Linked DNA regions of Homo sapiens. The protein of the gene in region 1 purifies or fractionates together with the protein of each later gene. This does not show direct contact. Each region holds a gene or a part of one and is shown in the gene's direction. Other genes may lie near its edges. The genes, in order: DDX31, MSLN, AZGP1 and TCN1.

Region 1 (7,736 bases):
GCAAGGTAGACATAAAGTTGTGTACCAAATGAAAGGTAGATATAAAATTGTTCATCAAATCCTTTAATACTGTGAACTAAGCAATACTCCTTAGAATAGGTTAAATTTGCTACAAATAAAAGCTACTGTAGAAGTAAACTCACAGGATTGGTAACCCAAAGCAGCAGCACGGGATGAAATAAAGGAAGCTTAAGCAACCCTTGGTCCTACTCATTGTGGGAAGAATTCTTGACAGGATGGAGAGCAGTACAGATCTTGACTGGTAGGAAAAAGTCTTAGGGTTTTGTGTAGCAATTTCTGACATATGTTTCAACTAGACTACTGAACCTCCCTCCAACTCTCCCTATCACAAAACTGTTAACAAATCAAGTATTCAGATGCCCAAGGAGTATACTTAAAAAGTCCAGCTCCCAGAGGCCTGCCCGCAGCCAATCATTTAATTGTACACCATCCAGTTTCCAGTTGACCACTATTAGGTTGGTGCAAAAGTAATTGCGGTTTTCACCATCACTTTTAATGGCAAATACTTTTAATACTAACTGTTAGGCATTTTGTAAGCACCTGACAAAAATTCACTTGAAGCTTTTAGACAGTAAGCTTCTTGAGGACAGGTAATAGAGTCCAAAGACAGGCAACAGTTATTTAACTTAATGTAGCAGATGAAGTTAATACTTTCTAAGGCTCCTAACAATTGATGCACAATACAATTCGGTACACAAATATTATCAGAATTTGGAACTATACACAAATGTCTCACTAGATGAGTCACTAAATCAGTAGTCCAATGGGAAAAACAATTCTGACATTCTTAAATCACTATTTCATTGCTTTTCAGATTTATACTGTCCACCTTTATATCATACAATCTTATAAAACAGCTGATAATTAATGTCTGAACTATTACATAACTGCAGATTTTCCTGCAAATTCATAATCTAAATAACAGAATTATAGAGCAAAAGCTTCAAAGGTGTTTAGTACCTAGCTTTCTAACAGTGCTACACTAAAACTGTCATCTGCGCTGCAGACTGTCCACCATTTAGGTTAGCGCGAAGGCATGCTGCACGGCACCGAGCAGATTTAAATCCACAGACTGCCAATGGGTGGAGTCATCAAAGTGCTGACACAGACTTCTTTACATTCCTACCGTCACACCAGTTTTAACCCACAGAGGGCTCTTGTAGAACTGCAGGGTCAACTCAGCATTCATTCACTTCAATCAGTCTAAAAAGACTGCTAAATGACTGATGGTTTATGTGATGTGCATATTAAAAAAAAAACAACAGTACAGAAGGGGAAGATGTTACTAATTAATTTCATAGAAGCCATTTGTCAACTATAAGAGAGCTATATAAGGATTTCCTGTTACTAGTTAGCAGTTGTGGTAAATGTTAACTGAGGCAAAATGACAGTCAAAATTTTATCAGAATACTCATGTCCACAACCACGACATTAATCCAGACTCCTACTCCTTCATACCTGTATAACTGCATTATATTTTCTTTCTTTTTTTTTGAGACGGAGTCTGGCTCTGTCGCCCAGGCTGGAGTACAGTGGCGCAATCTTGGCTCATAGCAAGCTCCGCCTCCCGGATTCACGCCATTCTCCTGCCTCAGCCTCCCAGTAGCTAGGACTACAGGCGCCCGCCACCACGCCCGGCTAATTTTTTGTATTTTTAGTAGAAACGGGGTTTCACTGTGTTAGCCAGGATGGTCTCGATCTCCTGACCTCGTGATCCGCTCGCCTCGGCCTCCCAAAGTGCTGGGATTACAGGCGTGAGCCACCGCGCCCGGCCCAACTCATTATATTTTCACCTTGAGCATTTACAGCGTGCCAAGAACTGGGCCAAGTGATTATGTGTGTTTAATCTTCCAAAAAACCTAAACAACGCTTCATTATCCCCCTTTTATAGATAGGCCTATCTTGTGCCAAAGCCCAGTCTCTTCACTTTTATTTTACACTGATCACAACAATCATCTTCTTGCCTCTATCCAGTAATGTTCCTGAACCACAGCAGGTCACTCTATGCTAATGAAACTGTAACAGCATCTTAAAGACTTCCTAGATTGAAGCCAACTTCCTCATACCGACCTTCCAAGTCCACAAACTGGTCTCATCTTACTTTCTCGGACTCTCTAGAAGACCTACTTGAGCTCATGTACTGATCCGTCATTATACAAACAATAATTAATTATGTTCATGACTTAAACGTGTATGCACATGGGATGAATGCCTCATTCCTGCCGCCTGGAATGCCCTTTCCTTCCTTCCTCTTACAAACCAAACACTACCTTCTTTAGGACTGCTGCAGATTCACCACCAGATGACCTGCCCCATAAGTCTCTCCCCTTACTACTCCCTCCTTTCTTTACATTCTCTCTGCTAAGGTATTCGATGTCTACTATACTGACATACATACTTTCCTTGAGTTGCTGTGCGGATGAACATCCTTGGAAACAGTTAAATTCCTTTACAGCAGAAGATACACCTTTTAAATCACCTTTCTTCTGCCTCCCTCCTTTTGTATTTCTCAATTTCATAGGGTTGCATCTGTCTATCTGATTTGTTTACACTTGAACAAATGTGTTCATATCTTCTTCAAGAAGATCTTAGAGGAAGCTTAGTCATACAAGCTGACTAACAATCTAACAACAGAAAGATGTTTGAAACTTGAATTAAGTATGCTACAAAGTGATGAGGGTTATCTGCACCCTACCTATAGCTAATGACTCATATTTTCAATGGTTTTCCAAAATAAGAGTTTACGAACACATAAACATGTTCTCTATGTGCGGATACACATCTTTACAGTGCTTATCACTACCTGACAGGACCTTATCATTTGTGCTTGACTTGCCAAAGAATGTAAGCTTCATGAGGGCAGGGGTTCTGTTTTGTACACTGCTTTATTTCCAGAACATGGGGCAGCACCAAGCAGAATGGTATTCAAATATCTATTGAATGTATGAATATACACTGACAGTTCACATGTAAGCGTACACCTCTATCAAGGATATATGGAAAGTTTTTACACCTCTAAGCAACTAAAAGGAACGCTATGGCTTACTACTTGACCTTGCGCTTGAAGTTTAAGATAGGTAGTTGTTTCGAATCTTTATTTTCATTCAACATCCCAAAGATGTTTAGCTAGTAAAGAAAAACTAAAGTACAAACCCCGAGATCCAGTATTTACCCGTTTGCCCAAGGAGAGGCGAGGACCATTCATAATAAAGTCACTGAAACAATTAAGACAATGGATGGGACCAGTTTTTCTTTTCTGAAGCTAAAGAGGCGCGAGAGGAGGACACACACAGTAGACAAAGCCAGCCAAGAACCTCGGAAAGTCGGCCCCAAACAATAGCAGCAACGACAGAGGCAGGCCCCGGGTTGGATCTACAGGGGGTGGAGTCTCAGAAAGCACCATCGAGTAACCCGCTCCATGTGCGGGCCCGACGGAGGGGCGAAGGAGGGGTTCCTGGGACTCAACTCCGGGAAGCCCCCTGGGTGTGTACCTGTGTTTGCGGCGGCGGGTGACCTGGGGAAACAGGGTGCAGACAGCTGCAGAGCTTTTCTTTTTTTTTTTTTAAGCTGTGGTAACCCTGGCTGCTTAATAAATCCCCAGCGCTCGGTGCGAAGAGGGAAATCCCCGGACAGAGTGTGGGATCGGATTCCCCTGGGACGGATGATGCGGCCGCGAGAGGGGGACAGGGGAAGACCCCAGGGATGGCGGGGGATGACTTACTTTGAGGAGACAGCTGTTGAGCGGTGCGGGCACCGAGGTGCGGTGGATAACCAGGTCCTGGCCCGGGTTGTGCACGTCGCAGATGAGCTCCAGCACAGCGATGCTGCGGGCCGTGGACACAGACACGCGGTGGTCCTCGGACCAAGCCAGCGGTTCCAGGCCGCTCACCGCATACTGCAGCTTCACGGCCGGCTCCCGCCGAGTCACCATGAGGCGGAATGCAGCGCTGGGCCCCGGGGCCGCGTCCGCTGCTGGCTCCTTCCCGCCCGCCTCGCCGCCCCCCTCTCCCTCCTCCTCCCCAGACGGCGCAGGCCCGTCGTCCGCGGGCCCCACCCGGGCCTGGTCGGCCGTGTTCATCTTCTCTCAGGTGCAGAGGTCGGACGCCCTGGCGCTCCACGCAGTCGCGCGACCACCTCCCGGACCGCCGCCGCCACCCCCAGCGCCCTCCGCGGCGGTTTTCTCCCCTCAGGCCCCGAGCGCCGCCGAGCCAAGAAGGACCCCGCCGTTGCCAGGCAACGCGGCCCTACCAGGTGGCCAAGGAACTGCCTGTCCAGAAAAAGGACAGCGAGCGGGGAGCCCCGAGGACCCCCTTTTCCCTGCCCAGGGATTGAGCTCCAGAGCCTGTTAGGGAGCTACCCAGACAGGCTTTAGTTCCTAAAGTGCTGAGGAAACGCACGGGGCGGTAAAGGGGAGGCTCGTCGGTGAGATGGCGCCGGATCTCGCTTCTCAGAGGCATTCAGAGAGCTTCCCCAGCGTGAACTCTCGGCCGAATGTAATTTTGCCAGGCCGCGAGGGACGCAGAGAGGGGCTGCCACCAGGCGGGGGCACGCGCGGTAGTCTTGTCCCTACCCGCCCGGTGCCGCCGTCCCCGGCTCCCCTCGGGACGAGTCCGTACAGCTGGAGCCGTTCCGGACCCGGAAGGGGCGGTGGCGCAGGGTCCTCGCGCGTCCCACGTGGGGTCCCGGGCCCAGCAGTCTGCGCACCGGGCTCGCTGCTGCACCACGCGTCACCCACGCAGACCATGGCAGCCGCCGACGGTTCGCTCTTCGACAACCCCAGGACGTTCTCCAGACGTCCCCCAGCCCAGGCGAGTCGGGTGAGTTCTGACCCGGCTTCAGCTCCGTCCCCACCCGCGGCCCGGCTGTGGGCGCGCCGCGAGCTGCAGCCGTGCCTTGGAGTCGGGTTTCGAGTCATTCACGGAGTTAAGCGGGAGAAAGACACCGGGCAGCTTCGGGACAAGTTGCGCCGAAACACGTGTCTCTAACCGGAACACCACCCGCAGGGATGCGCCTGGAAGCGGGGAGTGGAGCGGTGTGGAGGGGCGGGGAGCTGGCTCCTGCGCCTAGAAAAGTAAAGGAAGGAATTAGAGGCTGTTTCCCGTGGAAGGTAGGACCTGAAGTTCCGGCGCAAGTCCCAGGCCAAAGCTTAACTTCTCTAAGCCAGTTTCCTCGACTGAGTGCGGACTAAGCTCTGATTTTTTTTTTTATCTTGCCCACATTCCTGTCTGGGAAGAGTCATGCCCTACAAACCATAAATTCTCATCAGATGGCTTTCATTTAACCCTATATATCGTGACTTACTTTCCAAACTGGCTCTGGCCTAACATTATGTGACAAAGAAGAAAGTTAAAATATTACCCCTAAACATGTTTCTTTGCCACATTTTGAAATGGCTTTGCAAAGCTGTTCTTTGGGGGGGGCGGGCGGGGTGGACATTTGCATCTGCAAAGAATCTCTATTAACATAGCTAGATCTTTTTCTTCCAGGCCCTCCCAATCCTAAAGAGATTAAGAGTCTACCACCTTTCAAAGATCTGAATAGGAAACACTTGTCTGTTGTCTCTAAGGGCAGCCACTAAAGACTTGAAAAGAACCTTGGTCTCCACAATCTTTTATCTTAACCTGAGCATTTTCTTTGTATCCATCCCAGGTGTTTAGACAAACTCAACCGTCAACTAGAAAATGTTTAAATTTACCTATAGCCTGGAAGCCCCCGCTTTGAGTTGTCCCACCTTTCTGGACAAAACCAGTGTATTTCTGAAATGTATTTGATGTCTCATGCCTCTCTAGAATGTATAAAACCAAGCCGCGGCCGGGCGCGGTGGCTCACGCCTGTAATCCCAGCACTTTGGGAGGCCGAGGCAGGCGGATCACGAGGTCAGGAGATCGAGACCATCCTGGCTAACAAGATGAAACCCCCGTCTCTACTAAAAATACAAAAAATTAGCTGGGCGTGGTGGTGGGCGCCTGTAGTCCCAGCTACTCGGGAGGCTGAGGCAGGAGAATGGCGTGAACCCAGGAGGCGGAGCTTGCAGTGAGCCGAGATCATGCCATTGCACTCCAGCCTGGGCAACAGAACGAGACTCCGTCTCAAAAAAAAAAAAAAAAGCTGCACCCCGACCACCTTGGGCACATGTTCTCAGGACCTCTCGAGGGCTGGATCATGGGCCATGGTCACTCATACTTGGCTCAGAATAAGTCTCTTCAGATATTTTTGAGTTTAACTCTTTTGGTCGCCATGAGGAAGGTTCGTTTGTTTCAGGAATGAGGACTGGCAACTAGGAGTTTTTTTGAAGAGCTTTCAAAAATGGGACAGATTTTCATCCCCATGCAATGGAGGGGGATAGGAAAATCGGTTTCATTGATATAATCCCATTGCTAGAGAGGGGTAAGATGCCCTAGAATTAACTTAAGCAGTAACTGAAAACTGGTTTCTAGGATAGTTGATTTGTCTCTTAGAAAAGAGGACTACAGGACAGAAAGACTGATTAAAATCATAAAGTGATCATCAAACTTTAGGATTTAGATGTTTGGCAGTAAGGAGTCCAGCTAGCCAAGTGTAGCTGCATCTGGGTGGAGCGGGGAGAAGGATAGAAGAGCCACTGGGAGCATGGGATTTGGAATAGGATACACTTGGGATTCGGATGCTGCCCTTGCTGCACACTAGCTCTGTGACCTTGGAGCAAGTCACTTAATCTTTCTGATTCTCACTTTTCCTATCTATAAAATGAGAACAATAATTTCTACTCCATAGAAGACTATTGTAAGGATTCATTGAGATAGTATACATGAAGACTATACGTTGTCTGGCCCATAGAAGCACTTAATAAATGCCAACAGTATAAAGTAGTTTTGGCTCCATTTTGGATAATAGATTGCTACATCAGGAGGTCAGTGGGGTGCTTGTGTCCTCTGCAGAGCCTGGTAACTAACACATAAGAAGCATTGAGTAAATACATATAGGCTACCTAGTTTTATGGTTATCAAAAGGGGATTAATTAATGCAGTGATGACAGGTGTCTGCGGTGGCCTTGTCTAGATCTACGTTTTTTGTTTTGTTTTGTTTTGTTTTTTTGAGATGGAGTCTCGCTCTGTCTCCCAGGCTGGAGTGCAGTGGCGCGATCTCTGCTCACTGCAAGCTCTGCCTCCTGAGTTCACACCATTCTCCTGCCTCAGCCTCTTGAGTAGCTGGGACTACAGGTGCCCACCACCACACCCGGCTAATTTTTTTGAATTTTTAATAGAGATGGGGTTTCACTGTGTGTTAGCCAGGATGGTCTCCATCTCCCGACCTTGTGATCTGCCCACCTCGGCCTCCCACAGTGCTGGGATTACAGGCGTGAGCCAGCCAGGCCTAGATCTACATTTTCATTGATGTCGTGAATGAGAATGATGGATATGCTGATGAGACTTGCCAGTAGCCTGAACTTGAGATGGGTAGCTAATATACTGGATTTAGAAAGACTAACAGCTTAAATTATGCTGTATCTAACACTATGCAGAAATTTTCTCTCTAAAAATACTTTCTGGGCTGGGCGAGGTGGCTCACACCTGTAATCTCATCACTTTGGGAGGCCGAGGCAGGCAGATCACTTGAGGTCAGGAGTTGGAGACCAGCCTGGCCAACACGGTGAAACCCCATCTCTACTAAAAATACAAAAAAAAGGCTTGGCGCAGTGGCTCACGCCTGTAATCCCAGCACTTTGGGAGGCCGAG
Region 2 (6,955 bases), on another chromosome or scaffold:
AACTGGCCTCAAGCTATCCTCCCACCTCCTCCTCCCAAGTAGATGGGACTTCAGGCCTGCGTCACCATGCCTGGCTAGTTTTTAAATTTTTTGCAGAGATGGGGTCCCATTATGTCACCCAGGTTGGCGTGCAGTGGCGTGGTCATAGCTCGCTGCAGCCTCAAACTCCTGGGTCAAGTGATCCTCCCACCTCAGCCTAAAGTGCTGGGACTACAGGCATGCACCATCACACCTGGCTTTTGTATCTTTTTGTGTGTGTGTGCAGTGTCTGTTTAAATCTTTTGCCCATTTTTAAATAACAGCTTTACTGAGAGATAATCCACACTATACAGCTCACCCATTTACCCATTGGAAGTACCGTTCGGGCCCAGTGTGGTGGCTGCAGCCTGAAATCCTAGCATTGGGAGGTCAAGGTGGGCGGATCGCCTGAGGTCAGGAGTTCAAGACCAGTCTGATCAACATGGTGAAACCCCGTCTCTACTAAAAATACAAAAATTAGCTGGGCGTGGTGGCACACGCCTGTAATCCCAGCACTTTGGGAGGCCAAGGCGGGCTGATCACTTGAGGTCAGGAGTTTGAGACCAGCCTGGCCAACATGGTGAAACCCCGTCTCTACTAAAAATACAAAAATTAGCCGGGCGTGGTGGCGGGCGCCTGTAATCCCAGCTACTCCGGTGGCTGAGGCAGAAGAATCGCTTGAACCTGGGAGGCGGAGCTTGCAGTGAGCCGAGATCGAGCCACTGCACTCCATCCTGAGCGACAGAGGGAGACTCATCTCAAAAAAGAAAAGGAAAGAAACTCCATACCCCTTAGAAGTCAGTCCTCCTGACTGGTCTCCCTCCCGCGGGTCTTACGAAACCACTCATCTACTTCCTGTCTCTCTAAATTGACCCACTCTGGACGTTTCATCTAAAGGGACTCGTACGACGTGTCCGTGTTTCCAGGCTCAGCCGCGTTGCAGCACATATGGCCTGGGTTTTACGGGATTGTCTGTCTTATCATTGAACTGCAAATGTTCCTTGTCAATTCTGGGTATATGTCATGCAAATATTTCTCTTATTCTGTGGCTTGGCTCTTTATTTTCTTCACGGCATCATTCAAAGAGCAGCAGTGTCAGTCATGGTTTCTGCCTTCTTTCTTCCATCTAACAGGTCTTTGCCTGTTCCAAGCCCACAAACACTTCCTCTTGAATTTCCTTCTAATGGTTTTATAGTTTCAGCCTTTATACTCAGGCCTATGGTTGGCTTTGAGTAAATTTTGCATATAATATGAGGTAGGAATCTACGTTCTTTCAATCACATAGACACATAGATATGGCCGGGCATGGTGGCTCATGCCTGTAATCCCAGCACTTTGGGAGGCCGAGGTGGGCGGATCACGAGGTCAGGAGATCGAGACCATCCCAGCTAACACGGTGAAACTCCATCTCTACTTAAAAAAAAAAGCCAGGCATGGTGGCGGGCGCTTGTAGTTCCAGCTACTCAGGAGGCCGAGGCAGGAGAATGGCATGAACCTGGGAGGCGGAGGTTGCAGTGAGCGGAGATCGCGCCACTGCACTCCAGCCTGGGCGACAGAGCAAGACTCCGTCTCAGAAAAAAAAAAAATCACACAGATATTCTTATTTTTCTTCTTTCTTTCTTTCTTTTTTTTTTCAGTAGAGACGGGGTTTCATCATGTTGGCCAGGATGGTCTTGATCTCTTGACCTCATGATCCACCTCGGCCTCCCAAAGTGCTGGGATTACAGGCGTGAGCCACCACGCCTGGGCTTTTTTTTTTTTTTTTTTTTTTTTGAGATGGAGTCTCGCTCTGTTGCCCAGGCTGGAGTGCAGTGGTGCCATCTCGGCTCACTGTAAGCTCTGCCTCCCGGGTTCACGCCATTCTCCTGCCTCAGCCTCCCGAGTAGCTGGGACTACAGGCGCCCGCCACCACGCCCGGCTAATTTTTTGTATTTTTAGTAGAGACGGGGTTTCACCGTGTTAGCCAAGATGGTCTCGATCTCCTGACCTCATGATCTGCCTGCCTCGGCCTCCAAAAGTGCTGGGATTACAGGCGTGAGTCACTGCGCCCGGCATTTTTTTTTTTTTTTTTTTTTTTTTTGAGACAGGGTCTTGCTCTGTTGCCCAGGCTGGAGTGCAGTGGCGTGATCTCGACTCACTGCAACCCCTACCTCCTGGGTTCAAGTGATTCTTCTGCCTCAGCCTCCTGAGTAACTAGGATTACAGGCATGTGCCACCACGCCCAGTTAATTTTCATATTTTTAGTAGAAACGGGGTTCCTCCATGTTGGCCAGGCTGGTCTCGAACTCCTGACCTCAGGTGATCCGCCCACCTCGGCCTACCAAAGTGCTGGGATGACAGGCGTGCGCCACCACACAGGGCCTCATTTAAAGATTCTTTATAGAGATGAGGTGTCACTACGTTGCCCAGGCTGGTCTTGAACTTCTGGCCTCAACGGACCCTCCCGCATCGGCCTCCCACGGTGCTGGCTGAAGGGTGAGCCCAGGCTGGCCACAGCGCGTTTTCATCATTGTCCGCAGCTTGCAGTCGGCTGGTTCAGAGCTTAGCCGGGCACATGGGCCCCTCTGAGGCTCCTGTTCAGGGCTCAGCCGTGTCTACGGGGCCCTCCGAGCTCTTCCTGGACCCTCCTCGGCTCCTTCAGTTCAGGGCTCAGCTGGGCACGTGGGCGCCTCCTTGGCTCCTCCGGCTCAGGCCTCTCCTCGAGCTCTGGGCCCTGAGTATTCTGGGCTCCTTCCTTGGTTTCCTTTGGCCTTTGGCCGGGAAAGTTGTGGGTGTCCGTGGCAGCCTGGGCCACTTCACAGCCCCGCAGCCAACCTGCGGCTCCTTCAGAGCAAAGCTGTGTGGACACAAAGGGAACGCCACTCGGAGCTGGCCTCTCCCTTTACCTGTGAGTTCCCGCCCAAGCCGGCTGCCTTCTGTCCCCTCCCCAGAGCCCTTGGGTAACTGGTTTGCTACAAGAGTGTCTGGAATTTTTCAGTTGTTCTCTGCGGAAGGGAGTTTTTAAAAGGCCCTTAATCCCTTCTTGACATTTGTAAGTTGACGCTTACACCTGGCAGCCTTGCTGAATTCTGTGTGCGTGAAGGTCCGATTCCACCGCGAGTCACGATAGAAAACCCACTCTGTGGAGAGACCAGAGATGACCGCCGCGCACACCTCCGTTCAGCACACAAACCTTTGCAGGTGTTCATAGCGGAGGCAGATTCCGTACTGGGGATAAGAGCTCACGACATGCTGGGAGGGGTTTCAGGGGCAGGGAGGGGGCTTCTGTGGCCCCAGGTCAGGAGGAGCAGCTCTTCCATCAGCAGCAGGCAGCCAGCCCAGATGCGTAGGGAAGACAGCTCCCACTTCGCCAGGCCAGAGAGCGCCCGGGGGCAGCTCTGTTCCAGTCGACCCTGCGAGAAAGGGGTGTGCGTGTGCCTGGAGCTGGGCCCCGTCCTGCCTCCCTGACCTGTGTGCTCCCACAGCCCTGAGACGGACGGCTCACAGCCTTGCGAGGCCCACACTGCACTGGGGGTCAGGCTTGTGCTCCCGGGAGTCCTGTCTGGGCTGCGTGGCCACCATCCAGAGCCTGCTGACCTGCGACTGGGGGGGCCAGTGCTCCCTGGGTTTCAGCACCTGAGAATCAGAGTGGGATCCCGTGAAACCTGGGCCCAGGCTCCCACCCACGCCCCACACCCACCCAGGGAAGCCATGAAACCTGGGCCCGGGCTCCTACACATGCCCCACACCCACCCAGGGCAGCCGTGAAACCTGGGCCCGGGCTCCCACCCTCGCCCACCGAGGGCAGCTTTGCCTTCCTGGGCATCCCTCCTCCCCCAGGCCTGGCCCGCTGCCTGTCCAAGGCTCCTGTGCGGGGTCTCCACCCACACATTCCTGGGGCGTGAGGCGCCACCACTCCCTGCTGCCCCGGGCAAAGCCGTCATTTGTTCCCTTTGACGGCCCGGGAGGCTGCCAGGCTCTCCACCCCCACTTCCCAATTGAGGAAACCGAGGCAGAGGAGGCTCAGGTGTGGCCAATCACCCTGCACATCAGAGTTACCCTGGGCAGGGCCCACTGAGACCTGGGAGGGGCCACTCGGGACCTGGAGGGCTGGGGGCTGCCCGGGCGTTAGGGGTAAAGCTCCCTACCCAACTGCGCAGAAGGCCTCAGAGGCCTGGGGGCTGGGCTTCCCCTTTCACATCGCCCTTTAGAGGCCCACGTGTGGGCATTGGCCCGCGATCTGAAAGGGGCTGTCCTGTTCCTCATGGGCGCTGCCAGCGCCACGCACTCCTCTTTCTGCCTGGCCGGCCACTCCCGTCTGCTGTGACGCGCGGACAGAGAGCTACCGGTGGACCCACGGTGCCTCCCTCCCTGGGATCTGTAAGTAACAACCTTTGAGCTCTTCCTGTTGTGGTGTGGATGGAATCTGCACCTTCCATCTGGAGAACTGGGGCCGCCCCAGGCCGGGCTTCCAGCACCAGAGCGATGGTCAGGCTTCAGCTGGACGCAGATTTCACCCCGCAGGGCACACGCAGACCCATTTGTTTGGAAGCGGCAGTCCTAAGGCAGTGCAGGTGCCTCCACGGCCCCAGCCCAGCTCTCCTGCAGGTGTAAAGGATGCAGATTCCAGGGCCCCCCATGGCCTGCAGAGGCCCCTCAGAGCAGGAAGGGCCGGGCTCTCGGGGAGCCCCCATCCCAGGTGCTGAGGTCCTTGGGTCACATGGAGCTGGGGTGGGGAGTGCCCAGGTCCCCTGTGATCCGATGGCCACGTTTCCCTCCTGGCTTCACGCACCCCAAGGGCTGGGGGTCCCACTCACTGCCCATTTTCTGGCTGTGGGGGGGGTCTGTTTTCTTCCACCTTCTCAAGGTGTTCAGAGCCTCAGGGGCCTCCCCACTTCCTCTGGGGCCTGGGGGAGTAGAGTCTGTCACCCGGAGGCTGTGTGCCTCCCCGCGACATTCCCCAGTGGCCGGGCCGACCAGGCAGGCTCTGCCTGTGGATGGGGCTGCTGAGCATGAGCGTGTGACCCCCATTTCTGAGCTGTGGGTGGACCCACCGGGCCTGGGCCAAGGTTTTCAGGAGGCAGCTCTATTCTACTCCGCCATGGTGGCCTCCCTGAAAGGGGTGAGTGTAGAAGCCAGTTCCCTCTTCTGCGAGCCCCACCCCTACCCCAGGAGGACAATTCTTGTTCAGGGAGGGTCTCCCCACCCACTTCCCCACCCCACAGTGGCCCACAGGCCCCACCCTAGAGAGTACAAGGGGCTCCCCAGGCTGCTCACTGGCCCAGCCCCGCCCCACCTGGACTGCACCTGAAAATGGGCTCAGAGAGGCCAAGTGGCCCAAAAAGACGCTGCTGGGTGGGAAGGGGCGGTGGCCTCTGTGCCCGCAGTGCCCCTCCTGCCTCAAGGGTGTTGTCTGCCTGGCAGAGCCTGGGGTGTTCACAAAGCCCAGGCACCTGCAGCTGAGGGCAGGGGAGAGGGAAGGGAGCCACATCCAGGCGACGGGGCTGCTCGTCCTCCTGTGCGAGAGTGGGGAGACTCAGGCCAGCCCAAGTGGGCGGCGGCCCCGGTTGCTTGATCTAAGCTCTGCTCACACTGCCCTGCCCTTCTGGGAGAGGGGTGGGCGCCAACTGACTCCTGGGCTGTCTGGGCTGGGGACCGGGATCTCAGACCCAGCCCCTCCCCTGGACAGGAGGAGCCAGTCCAGGGGACAGAGGGCTCAGTGGCTGGAGGGCAGGGCCAGGGTGCGGACACAAGCTGCAGGTACCACAGAAGTTTGCTCTGGGAGCCCCTCCTGGGCCCATGTGGCCCCAGGCTGGCCCAGGACAGAGGCGTGGGGTGGGAGCAGGGGGTCCCATCCTGAGTCACTGCCCTCCACAGACACAGACCATGGCCTTGCCAACGGCTCGACCCCTGTTGGGGTCCTGTGGGACCCCCGCCCTCGGCAGCCTCCTGTTCCTGCTCTTCAGCCTCGGTGCGTACTTGATGGGGCTGCTGGTGAGGTGGGGACGGCCCAGGGGCCTTGGGGGCCAGGCCCCCAGCAAGGCTTTGCCTGCCCCTGCCTTCTCCCTGGAGTGCCTGTGGTGGCCACGTCTCAGCAGCAGTCTCTGCCCCCAGAGGTGACTGGAGCTGGAGATCCAGCCAGGGAGTGATGGGGCTCAGGACACAGTGGGGATGTCTGTGGGATGGGTGGTCTGACCGGCCAAGCAGCCGGGTCTCAGGGAAAGATGTGGAAGGCCGGGCTCCCTGGTGGAGTCCCGACCCCTGTGCCTGGGGGACTGTGATGTCACGGGGTACATGGGCCTGAGCCACTGGCTTCTCTTTGGGGTGTGCACAGGGCTGGCTGTGGGGGCGGCCAGGCTCTGCCTCCTTCCTCCCCTGGGTCAGGGCACAGCCCAGAGGCCCGCCCCCTCCCCCAAGCTGTCCCCTCTGCCCCTTTAGGATGGGTGCAGCCCTCGAGGACCCTGGCTGGAGAGACAGGGCAGGTAAGGTCCCCTCTGGGGAAACAGGGGAGGGTCTTCAGGTCCCAGGTGGGGGTGCCATGCTGTGTTCTCTCTGTCACGTATCCACGGTGCTTGCCAGTTTCCACGGTCCTTGCTTGCAAAGGGGCACCTGGACCTGCATGTGACTGGCCTGGGAGCAGCCAGGTCCAGGGAGCGGCAGAGCTGAAATTGCAGCTGGGTCTGGGAAGTAGATGGATGAGAAGCAGCCAAGCCCATGGGTCTGAGACACAGCCAGGCCTGGGAAGTAGCTGAACTCGGGGAGTACCTGGCCCAGGGGTAGCGGGACCTGGGAACTCCTGCTCCAGAGAGCTGGTCTGAGCCATGTTCAGCAGGCCCTGTGTCCCCAGGAGGCTGCGCCCCTGGACGGAGTCCTGGCCAACCCACCTAACATTTCCAGGTGGGTCTGGGGTCCTCACAGTCCTCAAGGGTGAGGCTCGAGGGGCCCTCGGGACTGAGGG
Region 3 (7,272 bases), on another chromosome or scaffold:
TTCCCATCTCTCCCTCTTTCCTTTAGGTGCCTGTGGAATCCCAGCCTTCCATGATGGAAGCAGAAATAGCCGCATCCTCCTTTTGCAGCCTCCCTGGCAATAGAACGAGCAGGTGTGCACAGGGTTTATGCTCAGCAAGTCGAAGCTACTGCCTTGGATATCAGGTCAAGTGTTAGGGAAACAAAGAGGAGGGCACAGTGGACAATGTTTTCTGGTGGTCTTGGCAGGGGTTGCAACTGCCAGCTCCCGGGGCAGTGGGGCTGCAGTAGCTGCGGGGGGCGTCTTGAGCTTCAGTCCCCCGGGATGTTGTAGATCCCGTGCTGTGGCCTCTGCTGCCCCCTGCTGGCAGCTTCTGTATATTTACTGGGCCGGTTGCAGGTGTGATTTTGACTGTTGGGCTCCTCTGGAATTCTGAGCCTGGGTTCTCCATCCTTTCTGTGGATTCTGAGAGCTAACCAATAAATACGTTTATTTTCTGCTTAAGGTCAGAACTGCATTACGTTTCCAATAACAAATACTCCTGGCGGATACAGAGATTGGTACAAGGATTGTTTCCAGGCAGTATTTACTCAGGGAAATGGAGGGCTGGGAAGCTGAGGTTGGTTACTGGGCCAGATTGGGGCTGCGCAGTGAAAACACAAGAGTCTTGGGGGATTCTGGCAGGCCTGGTGTGCAGTGATAACTTCAACAGTTGGCTGAGGTATCTGTTATGGTAGATTGGTGTAGGGACCAGCCCCACAGGGTCGGAGGGTTTTTCTCCCCGTGTGCAGAGACGAGAGAGTGTAGAAATAAAGACACAAGACAAAGAGATAAAAGAAAAGACAGCTGGGCCCCGGGGACCACTACCACCAAGACGTGGAGACCGGTAGTGGCCCCGAATGTCTGGCTGCGCTGTTATTTATTGGATACAAAGCAAAAGGGGCAGGGTAAAGAGTGTGAGTCATCTCCAATGATAGGTAAGGTCACGTGGGTCATGTGTCCACTGGACAGGGGGCCCTTCCCTGCCTGGCAGCCAAGGCAGAGAGAAAGAGGAAGAGAGAGAGACAGCTTATGCCATTATTTCTGCTTATCAGAGACTTAGTACTTTCACTAATTTGCTATTGTTATCTAAAAGGCAGAGCCAGGTGTACAGGATGGAACATGAAGGCGGACTAGGAGCGTGACCACTGAAGCACAGCATCACAGGGAGACGGTTAGGCCTCTGGATAACTGCGGGCGGGCCTGACTGATGTCAGGCCCTCCACAAGAGGTGGAGGAGTAGAGTCTTCTCTAAACTCCCCCAAGGAAAGGGAGACTCCCTTTCCCGGTCAGCTAAGTAGCGGGTGTTTTCCTTGACACTGAGGCTACCGCTAGACCACCGTCCGCTCGGCAAGGGGCGTCTTCCCAGACACTGGCGTTACTGCTAGACCAAGGAGCCCTTCTGGTGGCCCTGTCTGGGCATAACAGAAGGCTCGCACTCTTGTCTTCTGGTCACTTCTCACTATGTCCCCTCAGCTCCTATCTCTGTATGGCCTGGTTTTTCTTAGGTTATGATTATGCAGCGAAGATTATTATAATATTGGAATAAATTATAATATTGGAGGATTATTATAATATTATAATATTGGAATAATAAATTTGGAAAAAACTAATGATTAATGATATTGATATATAATCATATCTATGATCTAGATCTAGTATAACTCTTGTTGTTTTATATATTTTATTATACTGGAACAACTCATGCCCTCGGTCTCTTGGCTTGGCACCTGGATGGCTTGCCGCCCACATCTCCCCCCTTTTTATTAACTAGGATCGCCATCGCCATCATTGCTTGTCGTTGACTTCGGATTTGTTTTCGGACTCCTTGGAGGCATCTGCAGGCTAAAAGGAGACAACGTAAGCATACCAATATTAATAATGCCAGTGACAACAATGATCCTCCAAGGGGTTTGATCTATTTAAAGGGATTAAGATCAGATAATTGTTTAGTTATGCCTTCAAAAATGTCTGAGCCAGGAACAGTGGATAAATGAGCTTGTGAATCCTCGAAAATTTGCTCTTTAAGTTTTGAAATATCCAAGGTTAAGTTATCATCCCAGGCTTTTAAATGTCTTGAGACATTTTCCCAGCTATGTTGATATTTATTATAAGCATAAGGCATTATGCAATAATCAGAAGTATTCCAATCACTCTGTAATTGCATACGGTGTTCCAAATTCATATCTCCCAGCCAGATTACACTTTGGCGGAGATCATTAATTTGATTAGCTAATTTTTGATCAATTTGAGCCTGAGAATTCCAAAGTCTGGAGGAGTTTTTCTGCCATGCTTCAATTCAACATATTGAACGGTTTGAACAGAATTGTGGATGGCAACTCCAGCAGTTGCTGCTGTTGCAGTAACCGCAATTAGTCCTGCAATGATGGCAATAAGAGTAAAAATAAATCTCTTTGTTCTTTTGCGGATACCTTTAAGAACTTCATTGACTATGTGAATAGAGGGGGAAGACTCCCATGGACGATGTAAAGAAACTGGTATCCATACCCCCTCCCTAGCCCTTACCAAGAGAGTACTTGTAGTGGGATTAAAAGTAGCATCAATGCACGTGAACAGCTTACAGTTATCACATTCTATAGTTTGTGTATTGGGAATGATAATTATATTTCCAACCAACAGCATGTAAGGGGGTTTGACATAGCTCCTGATGGGTATCACCCGTTCAGATATGAGGGTGATGTTGAATGTGGGTGTTTTGGTATTAGTGTGAAGGAGTTGATAGGTAGTGTTCCATATCCTTATTCCTGTCATAGCTGCAGCTAATTTTCATAGTTGAGGATGTTCTGGGGTAACAAAGGGATGAATCATTTTTGGTCTAGGAGGAGTAATGCCTGCATCCATCCATTTAAATAGGTAAGGGGACACCCATTGTCTCAGCCTGTATGACTGCCATCCATCCTCTACATAATCTAACAAATAATTAAACTCTGAGCATGAGGTATTTTTGCTGGAGCAATCTTGCCAATAATGCCCTTTTGGAGCCCAATCAATAACAATACCTGCGGCTAGACTTTGGAGCACAACGGCCTTAGGAGCATTACAATTATTCCATAAAATTGAAGTCACTATAAAAGGTCCCTTTGTAGGTTTCTTTAACCAAAAGAGAGGCTGGGCACAGTTGCTCACACTAGTAAACCCAGCACTTTGGGAGACCGAGGCGGGCAGATCACGAGGTCAGGAGTTCAAAACCAGCTTGGCCAACATGGTGAAACCCCTGCCTCAGCTTCCTGAGTGCTGGGATTATAGGCATGTGCCACCACGCGCAGCTAATTCTTGTATTTTTTCAGTAGAGACGAGGTTTCATCATGTTGCCCAGGCTGGTCTCGAGTACCTGACCTCAACCTGAGGTGATCCAACCACCTCAGCCTCCCAAAGTGCTGGGATTACAAGCATGAGTCACCGCACCCGGGCCCCAGTCACTTTAGAATAGCATGTTGCTTTGTATTCGGAGGGTCTCTCTGCAAATAGCCCATCAACACTGAGCGTGCCTGGAAAGACCTGGTTTTCAAATAACTGGCTTCGTCTGTGTAAAACGAGTCTTGTTGTATGCATTAAAAATTATCTTGGCTGGGCGTGGTGGCTCACGCCTTTAATCCCAGCATTTTGGGAGGCTCGTTCTGTTGCCAGGGAGGCTGCAAAAGGAGGATGCGGCTATTTCTGCTTCCATCATGGAAGGCTGGGATTCCACAGGCACAGAAAGGAAGGAGGGAGAGATGGGAATGTGACTGTCCTCCAGACACAGCCTCTGGCAGGATCGGATGTGGGAGAGTGAGGGTCCCACCCCAGCTGGGGTCTACCCAGGTCCATGTCTTGGACATGTTGAGAGTTTTTCTGGAAGGCAGGGATACAGTGTGGTCCAAAAACACACAAATGCCCCTACTGGCCCAGGGGTTGTCACAATAGACTGGAAGGGTGACACATCCCAGGCGCTTGCCACCCATCACACGCACCTCCTACCCACTGGCATCCTTCCACCCCAGGCACACACAAAGCCTCAGTCCAGAGATCAACTCTGGACTCAGCTCTGAATTTGCATATCCTGTGTGTAGATTCATTCTTCATAACCTCTGCCCAGCCTAGCTTGTGTATCATTTTTTTTTCTCTATTAGGGGAGGAGCCCGTCCTGGCACTCCCATTGGCCTGTAGATTCACCTCCCCTGGGCAGGGCCCCAGGACCCAGGATAATATCTGTGCCTCCTGCCCAGAACCCTCCAAGCAGACACAATGGTAAGAATGGTGCCTGTCCTGCTGTCTCTGCTGCTGCTTCTGGGTCCTGCTGTCCCCCAGGAGAACCAAGATGGTGAGTGGGGAAAGCAAGGGATGGGTGCTGGAGAGGACTGGAAGGAGGTGAGGAACAGGACATGTGGCTGGGAGACAGGCTGGATGCAGCTGGGATACCCTGGCATACGGCAGGAATGGGTGCCCAAGGCTGTCAACTCCCTCAGCTCACACACTTCCAGGAGCATTCAGGGAGCCTCTGCGCTGGCCCGAAATAAGACCTTCAGGAATCTGAATCTAAAACCCCTAGTTTACAGTGAAAACAAAGACTCCAAAGACCAAGCGACCTGCTTGGGGTAGACAGTCAGGACGGAGTAGGAACCATATGCCTGGAGCTGCTTCTGCTCCTGTTCCTTCCCTCCTTCCGATGGCTGGGTACACCTGCCTGACGCTGAGGGAAAGAGAGAGCAGCCCCAAGGGGAAAGTGGGAAGGCAGGTTGGCTGGAGGGATGGTGCTAGAAGGAAACCCGTGCCCAAATCCCACACTCAGACACCACTGCAGTGGGTCTGGAAGGCGAGTGGCTGGAAGAGAAGAGAGTGGGAGCTCCGGGAGATCAAGAGTCACTCCTAGGATAAGGGAAGGAGGCTGTTTGTGGCATGAGAATGTGCAGGATAAAGACATGGAAGCGAATGGCTTCTCAGTTGTGTGAGTTTAAAATTCATGACATTTACAAATTGTCAGAAAAGGTGTTATATGTTTGTTATATAACAATCACTTTGGAATGTTAATCTGATTCTGTGCCAAAATCTGAATTACTCAGGGTTCTCCAGAGAAACAGAACTAATAGGTGGTACACATATACATATATATGTACGTACACATACATACATACACTGTATACACATGGATACACACACACATAGGAAGAGATTTACATATATGTATACAAAAGAGAGAGAGAGTAGAGATTTATTTTAAGAAATTGACTCACACTATTGGGAGGAGTAACAAGTCCTAAATCTTCAGAGCCGGCCAGCAGGCTGGAGACCCAGGGAAGAGTTGATGTCTTAGTCTTGATTCCAAGGGCAGACTGTAGGCAGAATTCTTTCCTCTTTAGGGGACATCTGAGGCTTTTTCTCTTAAGGCCTTCAACTGATTGGATGAAGCCCACCACTATGGAGAGTAATCCACTTTACTCAAGGTCTACTGATTTTTTTGTAAATTAAAAAAAAAACTGTGGGTGCATAGTATGTGTATATATTTATGGGGTACATGAGAGGTTTTGATTCAGGCATGCAATGTGAAATAATCACATCATCAAAAATGAGGTATCCATCCCTTCAAGCTTTTATCGTTTGTGTTACAGACAATCCAATTATACTTTTTTGGTTATTTTAGTTTTTAAAAGTATTTGATTATTTATTTATTTATTTATTTTTGAGACAGAGTCTCACTCTGTCACCCAGGCAGGAGTGCAGTGGCATGATCTCGGCTCACTGCAACCTCCGCCTCCCAGGTTCAAGCAATTTTCCTGCCTCAGTCTCCTGAGTAGCTAGGACTACAGGCACCTGCCACCACACCTGGCTAATTTTTTTGTATTTTTAGTAGAGACGGGTTTCATCATGTTGGCCAGGCTAGTCTTGATATCCTGACCTCGTGATCTGCCCGCCTTGGTCTCCCAAAGTGCCGGGATTACAGGTGTCAGCAACTGCGCCTGGCCTCTCTTTTGGTTATTTAAAAGTGTACAATTAAATTATGATTATTATTATTATTTTTGAGATGGATTCTTGTTCTGTCACCCAGGCTGGAGTGCAGTGGCGTGATCTTGGCTTACTGCAAACCTCCGCCTGTTGGGTTCAAGCAATTATCTTGCCTCGGGTGTACACTGCCACACACGGCTAACTTATGTATTTTTAATAGAGATAGGGTTTCACCATGTTGGCTAGACTGGTCTTGACCTCTTGACCTCAAGTGATCCACTCACTTCAGCCTCCCAGAGTGCTGGAATTACAGGCACGAGCCACCACACCTGGCCCCAGTTAAATTATTATTGACTATAGTCACCCTGTTGTGCTATCAAATAGTAGGTCTTATTCATTCTTCTTTTTTTTTTTTTTTTTGTGACAGAGTTGCCCAGGCTGGAATGCAGTGGTGCAATCTTGGCTCACTGCAACCTCTGCCTCCCGGGCTTAAGCGATTCTCCTGCCTCAGCCTTCTGAGTCGCTGGGACTACAGGTGTGTGCCACCACGCCCGGCTAATTTATGTATTTTTAGTAGAGATGGGGTTTCACCATGTTGGCCAGGCTGGTTTCGAACTCCTGACCTCAAGTGACCCACCTGCCTCAGCTTCCCAAAGTGTTGGAATTACAGGCATGAGCCACCACACCTGGCCCCAGTTAAATTATTATTCACTGGAGTCACTTTGTTGTGCTATCAAATAGTTTTCTAACTATTTTTTTTGTACCCATTAACCACCCTCCCAATTTCCCCCCAACCCTGCCACTACCCTTCCCAGCCTTTGGTAACCATCCTTCTACTCTCTATGTCCATGAATTCAATTGTAGGGTCTACTGATTTAAAGGCTAATCACATTTAGACACTCAGGAGCAAGAATAATTTTAGTAATTGAACTAGGATTCTGCCATATGACCTCCAACATCATTAGCACCTGTGTAAATTGTATCATAAAATAATTATGGAACTATTATGGAAATGTCCCTCTCTCCCAGATCCCACCTTGTACCAAAATGCAAGGTACAACCCCGGGAATTCTGAGCTCCATCCTAGTCTTACCCTGTGCTAATTCAGTCTGGGTCATTTCTTGAATTTTCTGGTAAATTCTCCTTTCTACCCTTTCTAACTATATGTATTTGTCAGGTTAAGCTAGAAGTGTTAATTTTTTTTTTTTTGAGATGGAGCCTTGCTTTGTCACCTAGGCTGAAGTGCAGTGGCATGATCTCAGCTCACTGCAAGCTCCGCCTCCCGGGTTCATGCCATTCTCCTGCCTCAGCCTC
Region 4 (7,516 bases), on another chromosome or scaffold:
AAATTTAAGAATATTGAAATTATATCAAGTATCTTTTCTGACCCCAATGGTATGAAACTGGAAATCAATAATGTGAGAAAAATTGGAACATTTACAAATACATGGAAATTAGATAATTCACTCCTGAACAATCAAGGAGCCAAAGAGGAAATTAATGAGGAAGTAAAAAGTATCTTGAGACAAATGAAAAGGTAAACTCAATATCTGAAAACATATAGGATACAGCAAAAGCAGTACTGAGAGGAAAATTCATAGTTATAAATGTCTAGATTAAGGAAAAATAAAGATTTCAAATGAACAAACTAAGTTTAAACATTAAGGAACTAGAAAAAGAATAATCTAAACCCAAAGTTATCAGAAAGAAGGAAACAACAAAGATCAAAGCAGAAACAAATAAAATAGAGAATAGAAAAACAATGGAAAAGATCAACAAAACTAAAAGTTGGTTTTCGGAAAAGATAAAAAAAAATCGACAAACCTTTAGCTAGACTAACCAAGAAAAAAGAGAGAAAACTCAAATAAGTAAAATTATAAATGAAAGAAGTGAAGACATTACAACTGCTATCACAGAAATACAAAGAATCATAAGAGACTACTATGAACAATTATATGCCAGCAAATGGGATAACCTAGAAGAAATGCATAAATTCCTAGAAACACACAATGTGCCAACAATGAATCATGAAGACATAGAAAATCTGAACAGACCAAAAATATAAATAAGGGGACTGAATCAGCAATCAAAAACCTCCCTACAAAGAAAAGCCTAGGACCAGATGTTTCACTGGTGAATTCAACCAAATACCTAAAGAAGAATTAATGGCAATTCCTCACAAACTGTCCCAAAATATTGTAGAAAGAATATTTCCAAACTCATTTTACAAGATGAGTATTACCCTAATACCAAAGCCAGATAAGGACACTACCAAAAAAAAAAAAAAAATCACAGGCCAATACCCATAATAAACATAGATGCAAAAATCCTCAACAAAATACTAGCAAACCAAATTCAACAGCACATTAAAAAAAAAGCAAAAAAAAAAAAATCAATCAAAAAAATTTAGCATCCTTTCATGATAAAAAAAAACTCTCAACAAATTGGGTATAGAAGAATTCTACTACTGAGCCATTAAAAGGAATGAAATAATGTTAATAATAAGTGAGAAAATATTTTTTTTGGTTTTCTACTCCTGTGTTGCTTAGAATAATTGCCTCCAGCTCCATCCAAGTTGCTGTGGAATATTTGAGAAAATATTTGCGAACCTATATCTGAAAATAGATTAATATCCAAAATATGTAAGAACCATGCAATTCAATAGCAAAATGAAAACAAAAACAAAACAAATAACCTGATTTTAAAATGGGCTAAGGACCTCAACATTTTCCAAAGAAGACATAAAAATGGCAAACAGGCATGAGAAAACATGCACAATATCACTAATCATCAGAGAAATTCAAATCAGAATAATCACATCACCTTATACCTGTTAGGGTGACTATTATCAAAAAGACAAAAGATAACAAAGTATGGATGAGGATGTAGAGAAAAGAGAATCCTTTGTGTTTGCAGAATGTAAATTTGCACAACCATTATGGAAGACAGTGTGGTGGTTCTTCAAAAAATTATAAATGGAACTGCAATATGATCCAACAATCTTAATTCTGGGTACATATCCAAAGGAAGCAAAAGCAGTGTTTCAAAGAAATATATGTACTCCCGAATGGGCACGGTGGCTCACGCCTGTAATCGCAGCACTTTGGGAGGCTGAGGTGGGTGGATCACCTGAGGTCAGGAGTTTAAGACCAGCCTGATCAACATGTTGAAACCCTGTCTCTACTAAAAAAAAATAGAAAAGTTAGCCGGTGTGGTGGCAGATACCTGTAATCCCAGCTACTCTGGAGGCTGAGGCAGGAAAATCACTTGGACCCGGGAGGTGGAGTTTCCAGTGAGCTGAGATTGCACCATTGCACTCCAGCTTGGGCGACAAGAGAGAAACTCTGTCTCAAAAACAAACAAACAAACAAACAAACAAACAAAAATATATATTATATAAAATATGTACTCCCATGTTCATTGCAGCATTATTCACAATATCAAAGACATAGAAACAACCTACATATCTGTTGATGGATGAAGGGATAAAAATTGTGATTTATATACACACACACATATATGTGTGTGTGTGTATATATATATTTATATTTATATAATAGAATAGTATTCAGCCATAAAAAAGAAGGAAATAGTGCCCTTTGAGACAGCATGGATGAACCTGAAGAATATCATGCTAAATGAAATAAGTCACAGACAAATACTATGATCTCATTTATATGTAGATTCTAAAAATTATCAAATACATGGAAACAGAGAGTAGAATGGTGGTTTCCACATAAGTTTTATATAAATATGTGAGAGAGAGAAAGAGATTTATTCCAAGGAGTTGATTCATGCCCTTATGGAGGCTAAGAAGTCCCACAGTCTACTGTCTGCATGCAGTAAAAGTCAGTGGAGTGATTCAGGCCAAACTGAAAGCCCAAGAACCAGGGGAGCCGATGGTGTAAATCTCAGTTTGAGGGCTGGAGAAGATAAGATGTCCTAGCTCAAACAGGCTGGCAGGAAGCAAAAAAAGGGTGAATTCCCCCTTCCTTCACCATTTTATTCTATTCAGGGTCTCAATAGATTGATTGATGCACACCTACATTGGAGACGGCATTCTACTTTCCAGAGTCCACCAATTAAAATGCTAATCCTATCTGGAAACACCCTCACAGATACATCGAGAAATAGTGTTTAATCTGGGCACTCAGGTGCCAGTCAAGTTGACACAGAAAATTAACCATCACAGAGGTACAATGCAAATAGTGGCTCATTAAGTCATGACATCCTTAGCTAGGCTGACAGTATTCTCTAATAGTTCTCAGAAGAACTGTGATAGGCAACACTTCTCACATGTAGCAACTGCCCTGGCAGGGCAGAAATTCACATTTGATGTATAGCTCTCTGGTTTTCCTCCTTGGTTAGGAAACTCTCATGGAATCTATCTTAGGAGAAAAATCATAGTTTGGAAACCACTATGCCAAAGATCCCCTCATGTGCTGGGTTCTCCAATACTGCCTGCTTCAATTTCAGACTTACAACTTTTACTTCCGTTTTTAAATTTTTTTATTTCAATTTTTGTAGGTACATAGTAGGTGTATATATTTATGGGGCTCATGAAATGTTTTGATACAGGCATGCAATGCGTAATAATCACATCATAGAGAAGGGGGTATTCATCCTGTCAAGCATTTATCCTTTACGTTACAAACAATCCAGTTATACTATTAGTTATTTAAAATGTACAATTAAATTATTATTGACTATAGTCACCCTGTTATGCTACCAATAGTAGGTCTTATTCATTCTTTCCAATATTTTGTACCCATTAACCCTCCGCATCTCCTTCCCACCACTAGCCTTCCCAGCCCCCAGTAACCATCTTTTCATTCTCTATCTCTATGAATTCAATTGTTTTGATTTTTAGATCCCACAAATAAGTGAGAACATGCAATGTATGTCTTTCTGTGCCTGGCTTATTTCACTTAACATAATTATCTCCAGTTCCATCCATTTTGTCACAACTGACAGGATTTCATTCTTTTATATGGCTGAATAGTACTCCATTGTGTATATGTACATTTGCTGTGTTCATTTATCTGTTGATAGACACTTAGCTTGCTTCCAAATCTTGGTTATTGTAAACAGTGCTGCAACAAACATGGGAGTGCAGATATCTCTTCAATATACTGGTCTTCTTTCTTTTGGGTATATAGCCAGCAGTGGGATTGCTGGATCATATGGTAGCTCTATGTTTAGTTTTTTGAGGAAGCTCCAAACTGTTCTCCATAGTGATTGTACTAATTTACATTCCCACCAACAGTGTACAAGGCTTCCCTTTTCTCTACATCCGTGCCAGCATTTGTTATTGCCTGTGTTTTGAATAAAGCCATTTTTAGCTGAGATGAGAGGATATCTCATTGTAGCTTTGATTTCCATTTATCTGATGATCAATGATGTTAAGCACCTTTTCAAGCACTTTTTCATATGCCTGCTTCCCATTTGGATGTCTTCTTTTACTTCCATTTTTATATGTTGTATGTGTTTGCATGATCAAATCTACTTTATCAGGAAACATAAAACATAAAGTGAAACGGAAAAAAAAGGAAAGATTATAGGAAACAGTCATTTGCCTAATATATCTTCACTGCACGGAAGGCAAATAATAGATATGAAACCCGAAGGTTTAGGACAGGAGACAAAGGAAAGTTATTGCCTTATTCTCCCTAACCACATCCTTCAAGTCTTCTTCCTTATTTATTACATCACATGGACAAATACACTTGACCACACCTCCTGACATTGCTCAATATTTGCTTGAGTGAAAAGAGGCTGAGGCAACCTGAAGGAGGAGCTCTCATTACCTTCTGCCCATCACTTAATAAATAGCCAGCCAATTCATCAACATTCTGGTACACTGTTGGAGAGATGAGACAGTCACACCAGCTGCCCCTAGTGGGGCTCTTACTGTTTTCTTTTATTCCAAGCCAACTATGCGAGATTTGTGGTGAGTAAACTTTGAGCTAAAATTACTCTAGAGTGATAGTCTACTGAAAACTGTTGACAAGAGACTCTATGTAGAGTTACCTGAGAAAAGATCCCATTCCAGTTTCGTATGTGGTTGGACTCCATGAATGATGAAAAGGGTGGCAGGAGATGGTGAGGAAAGTCTCACAATGCATGTTGTTGTAAGAGGAATTATAGATTGTGTATTCACTTGCCTAACTGCTCTTTCTATGCTCAGATCCTCTCTAGCACAGCATCCCTACCAAGTAACTCCCTATTCATGTGACTTTTCAATGACAGAAAATTTATGCTCCCAGAAACTTTTCTAGATCATGGAAAGTTATCTTTTGGTCTTGATATGCAATCTTTTTTCCCTGAAATTCAATGCATGATTTTTGGGTTAACCCCTTGTAACTACATAGAAAAAAATAATAATCTCTTTCAAATAGTGATGACTGCTGTCTTGTCATGAGTGAGTTTAGATGTTCCAAGTTGCATGTCCACCTTCCTTCAACTCTTTCCCAGGACACATGGGATAAAGTTCCATCATCTCTTGCATGGGTGTTGACCCCAGAGATTGTGTGGTTCTGTAAAAGAACTTTAAAGTAAGAGAAGGGAAAACTAAATTCAGGTTTAGTTTGATCCCTTAGTTATTGAATGACCCAACATTTCTGAATTTCTTTAGCTTCATTCATAAATAAAGGATAATGAGGGGAGACTATTGAAGCAAATTATCTCATGAAGTCTGGTGCAGTTCTCAAGTGCATGAATTCTCTTTTGTGAGACTTTACTCTGAAATTGAGCTTCAAACCAGTCCAAAGATTACTAGGTGGTACTATCTGTGCTCTCTAACCAGTAAGAAGAGAACACCACAGAAGACAGGCTTGTATACATACAGGCTAAAGCATAGACTCTTCTGACTCTGATTTTTCTTCTTGGCTTGACATTTCCCCTGTTGGATCCTAAGAATAGGGAATGGCTATGTAGGTTTTAGCTTTCAATTCATTTTAAATAATAATGATAATAATTAAATTTATCTTTGAGACTCAAGGAAGCTGATTTGAGTTGTTGATCAGGAACTAAAAAGTCTGTTTCAGGGCCAGAAAATCTGCTGAGCTGGATGGTTCCACAAAATCTCAGAGAACTGACTCACAATTGTTCCATTGTGTCTGCAACAAACCATGACCTTTCTACAATCACTCTATTCAGATCTTCTTGACTCATTCTTTTAAAGTAAAGAAAACTGGGCAAGAGAAATTACATTTCCTTGATTCTCAAGTATAGTGATAAAAACTCCAGTTGAGCTGGAAATAATAGTATGTGCAGCATTTTACAGTTTATTCGGTGGTTTCTTGTCCAATATCTGTAAGGTAAGTGTTAACAGCCACAATTTTTAAATGAGAAAACTAAGAGTAAAACAAGTTACATAAGTTATTATCCACAGTCATAAGTTAAGGAGCACAAAATGTGGCCAAAATCTGAATCCAAACCTCATGTTCTTCTCACTCTCCCACTAATCCATTAGATAATCTGGAGATATGTAGGATTTGGGGCTACTCCTCAAGATTATGGAAAAATACATTGACAAAGTGTCCTGTGTTTAAATAAATAGTAAATCTTTTTATTCTCCTCTATTTCCTTGGGAGCTATGGATTTTCCTACTTCCACAGTATAATGTGACTTCCCTCCATCTCTGGAATTGGGGCATATTGTAGGCTAAAACTGGAGAGTTTTTTACAGGCTGCATAATGCTAAATAATGATCTCGATGCCCAGCCAGCTGGGTAATCAGACAATGAAGTTTTGGGGTCAATCACCAGTATAACACAGAATTATTACCTGCATTTTCTCAACATTAACCCAGTTGATTTAGAAGATGGAGAAGGAAAGAACTGAATCCAGGAAGTAGAAAGTCCTGCTTACTGAGAGTCAGAAGACATGTAGTCTAGTTTCAGCTCAGCCTCCAATTATGGAAGTTTCTTTAAGGACAATCTATCTAAGCTTCATATACAAAATTAGGGAATGATGCTAGATTTCCCAGGCAGGAGTCTGCCAGTACACAATGATAAGTCTGCACCAGTTGTTAAAATATTAAAACATTTTCATGTTGGTTGTTAAAGGAGTAATGTCTGGCATGGGGGTGGGTTCAAGACCCACCTTTGTATTATTCCACCAACACAGTCTGCAGCCACTGGATTGGTCTAGGTCTGTGCCATATCTGTTACTAAATATTTTTATATAACCCCTGCTGCAAGTCTTACTATTTTCTGAGTATGTGTTTCTTATTTCCTTCCTTCTCTGCCACAGAGGTAAGTGAAGAAAACTACATCCGCCTAAAACCTCTGTTGAATACAATGATCCAGTCAAACTATAACAGGGGAACCAGCGCTGTCAATGTTGTGTTGTCCCTCAAACTTGTTGGAATCCAGATCCAAACCCTGATGCAAAAGATGATCCAACAAATCAAATACAATGTGAAAAGCAGATGTAAGTTGCTGTATATTCTGGAAGATTTAGAAAAAAATCTACCTATTTAAAGATTATCTGCAACTAATCCTAAAAAATTATGCATCCAAAGTATCCCTGCTACATCCCTTCTAATGGTACCAAACTTGAGGTAACAGAAACATGCCCAAAATACAATCCCATGCCATTCACCCTAGAGCTAGGTCTTGCTTCTTTTGGTCTTAAAAACCACTTTTCTTCAAGAAGCCACAAACAAAAGCTATGGATTTTTATCCATTAATGCTGTTATATAAGCTAGCTTAGTTCACAACCACATGGGAATACAGATCATAACTAAGAAAGCTGGTGATGGAAAGGCAACCATGGAACAACCCAGATTTGAACTAGGTATGGGTGGGCCTTGAACCAGTCATGTTAATACTGAGCCTCAGTTTTCTAATTAGTATAA

Evidence for each region.
Region 2: the proteins of DDX31 (region 1) and MSLN purify together in Homo sapiens (affinity purification with mass spectrometry; 2 studies listed by BioGRID and IntAct, with this or other methods). This does not show direct contact.
Region 3: the proteins of DDX31 (region 1) and AZGP1 purify together in Homo sapiens (affinity purification with mass spectrometry; 2 studies listed by BioGRID and IntAct, with this or other methods). This does not show direct contact.
Region 4: the proteins of DDX31 (region 1) and TCN1 purify together in Homo sapiens (affinity purification with mass spectrometry; 2 studies listed by BioGRID and IntAct, with this or other methods). This does not show direct contact.

What each region holds. Positions count from the first base shown.
Region 1 is NC_000009.12:132,666,962-132,674,697, reverse strand, and holds the start of DDX31 (ATP-dependent DNA helicase DDX31), read left to right. Parts: upstream 1-4,714; 5' UTR 4,715-4,763; coding exon 4,764-4,838; intron 4,839-5,024; exon of another isoform or gene 5,025-5,026; coding exon of another isoform or gene 5,027-5,128; intron 5,129-7,736. Other genes in the region: GTF3C4 (general transcription factor 3C polypeptide 4), read right to left, coding at 3,743-4,099. UniProt on the Homo sapiens protein: May have DNA helicase activity and RNA helicase activity. Probably have ssDNA and RNA dependent ATPase activity. Plays a role in ribosome biogenesis and TP53/p53 regulation through its interaction with NPM1.
Region 2 is NC_000016.10:756,798-763,752, forward strand, and holds the start of MSLN (mesothelin isoform 1 preproprotein), read left to right. Parts: upstream 1-3,936; 5' UTR 3,937-4,024; intron 4,025-4,275; 5' UTR 4,276-4,377; intron 4,378-5,874; 5' UTR 5,875-5,883; coding exon 5,884-5,968; intron 5,969-6,435; coding exon 6,436-6,479; intron 6,480-6,844; coding exon 6,845-6,894; intron 6,895-6,955. UniProt on the Homo sapiens protein: Membrane-anchored forms may play a role in cellular adhesion. Megakaryocyte-potentiating factor (MPF) potentiates megakaryocyte colony formation in vitro.
Region 3 is NC_000007.14:99,973,012-99,980,283, reverse strand, and holds the start of AZGP1 (zinc-alpha-2-glycoprotein precursor), read left to right. Parts: upstream 1-4,252; 5' UTR 4,253-4,263; coding exon 4,264-4,339; intron 4,340-7,272. UniProt on the Homo sapiens protein: Stimulates lipid degradation in adipocytes and causes the extensive fat losses associated with some advanced cancers. May bind polyunsaturated fatty acids.
Region 4 is NC_000011.10:59,863,480-59,870,995, reverse strand, and holds the start of TCN1 (transcobalamin-1 precursor), read left to right. Parts: upstream 1-4,508; 5' UTR 4,509-4,525; coding exon 4,526-4,604; intron 4,605-6,909; coding exon 6,910-7,089; intron 7,090-7,516. UniProt on the Homo sapiens protein: Binds vitamin B12 with femtomolar affinity and protects it from the acidic environment of the stomach.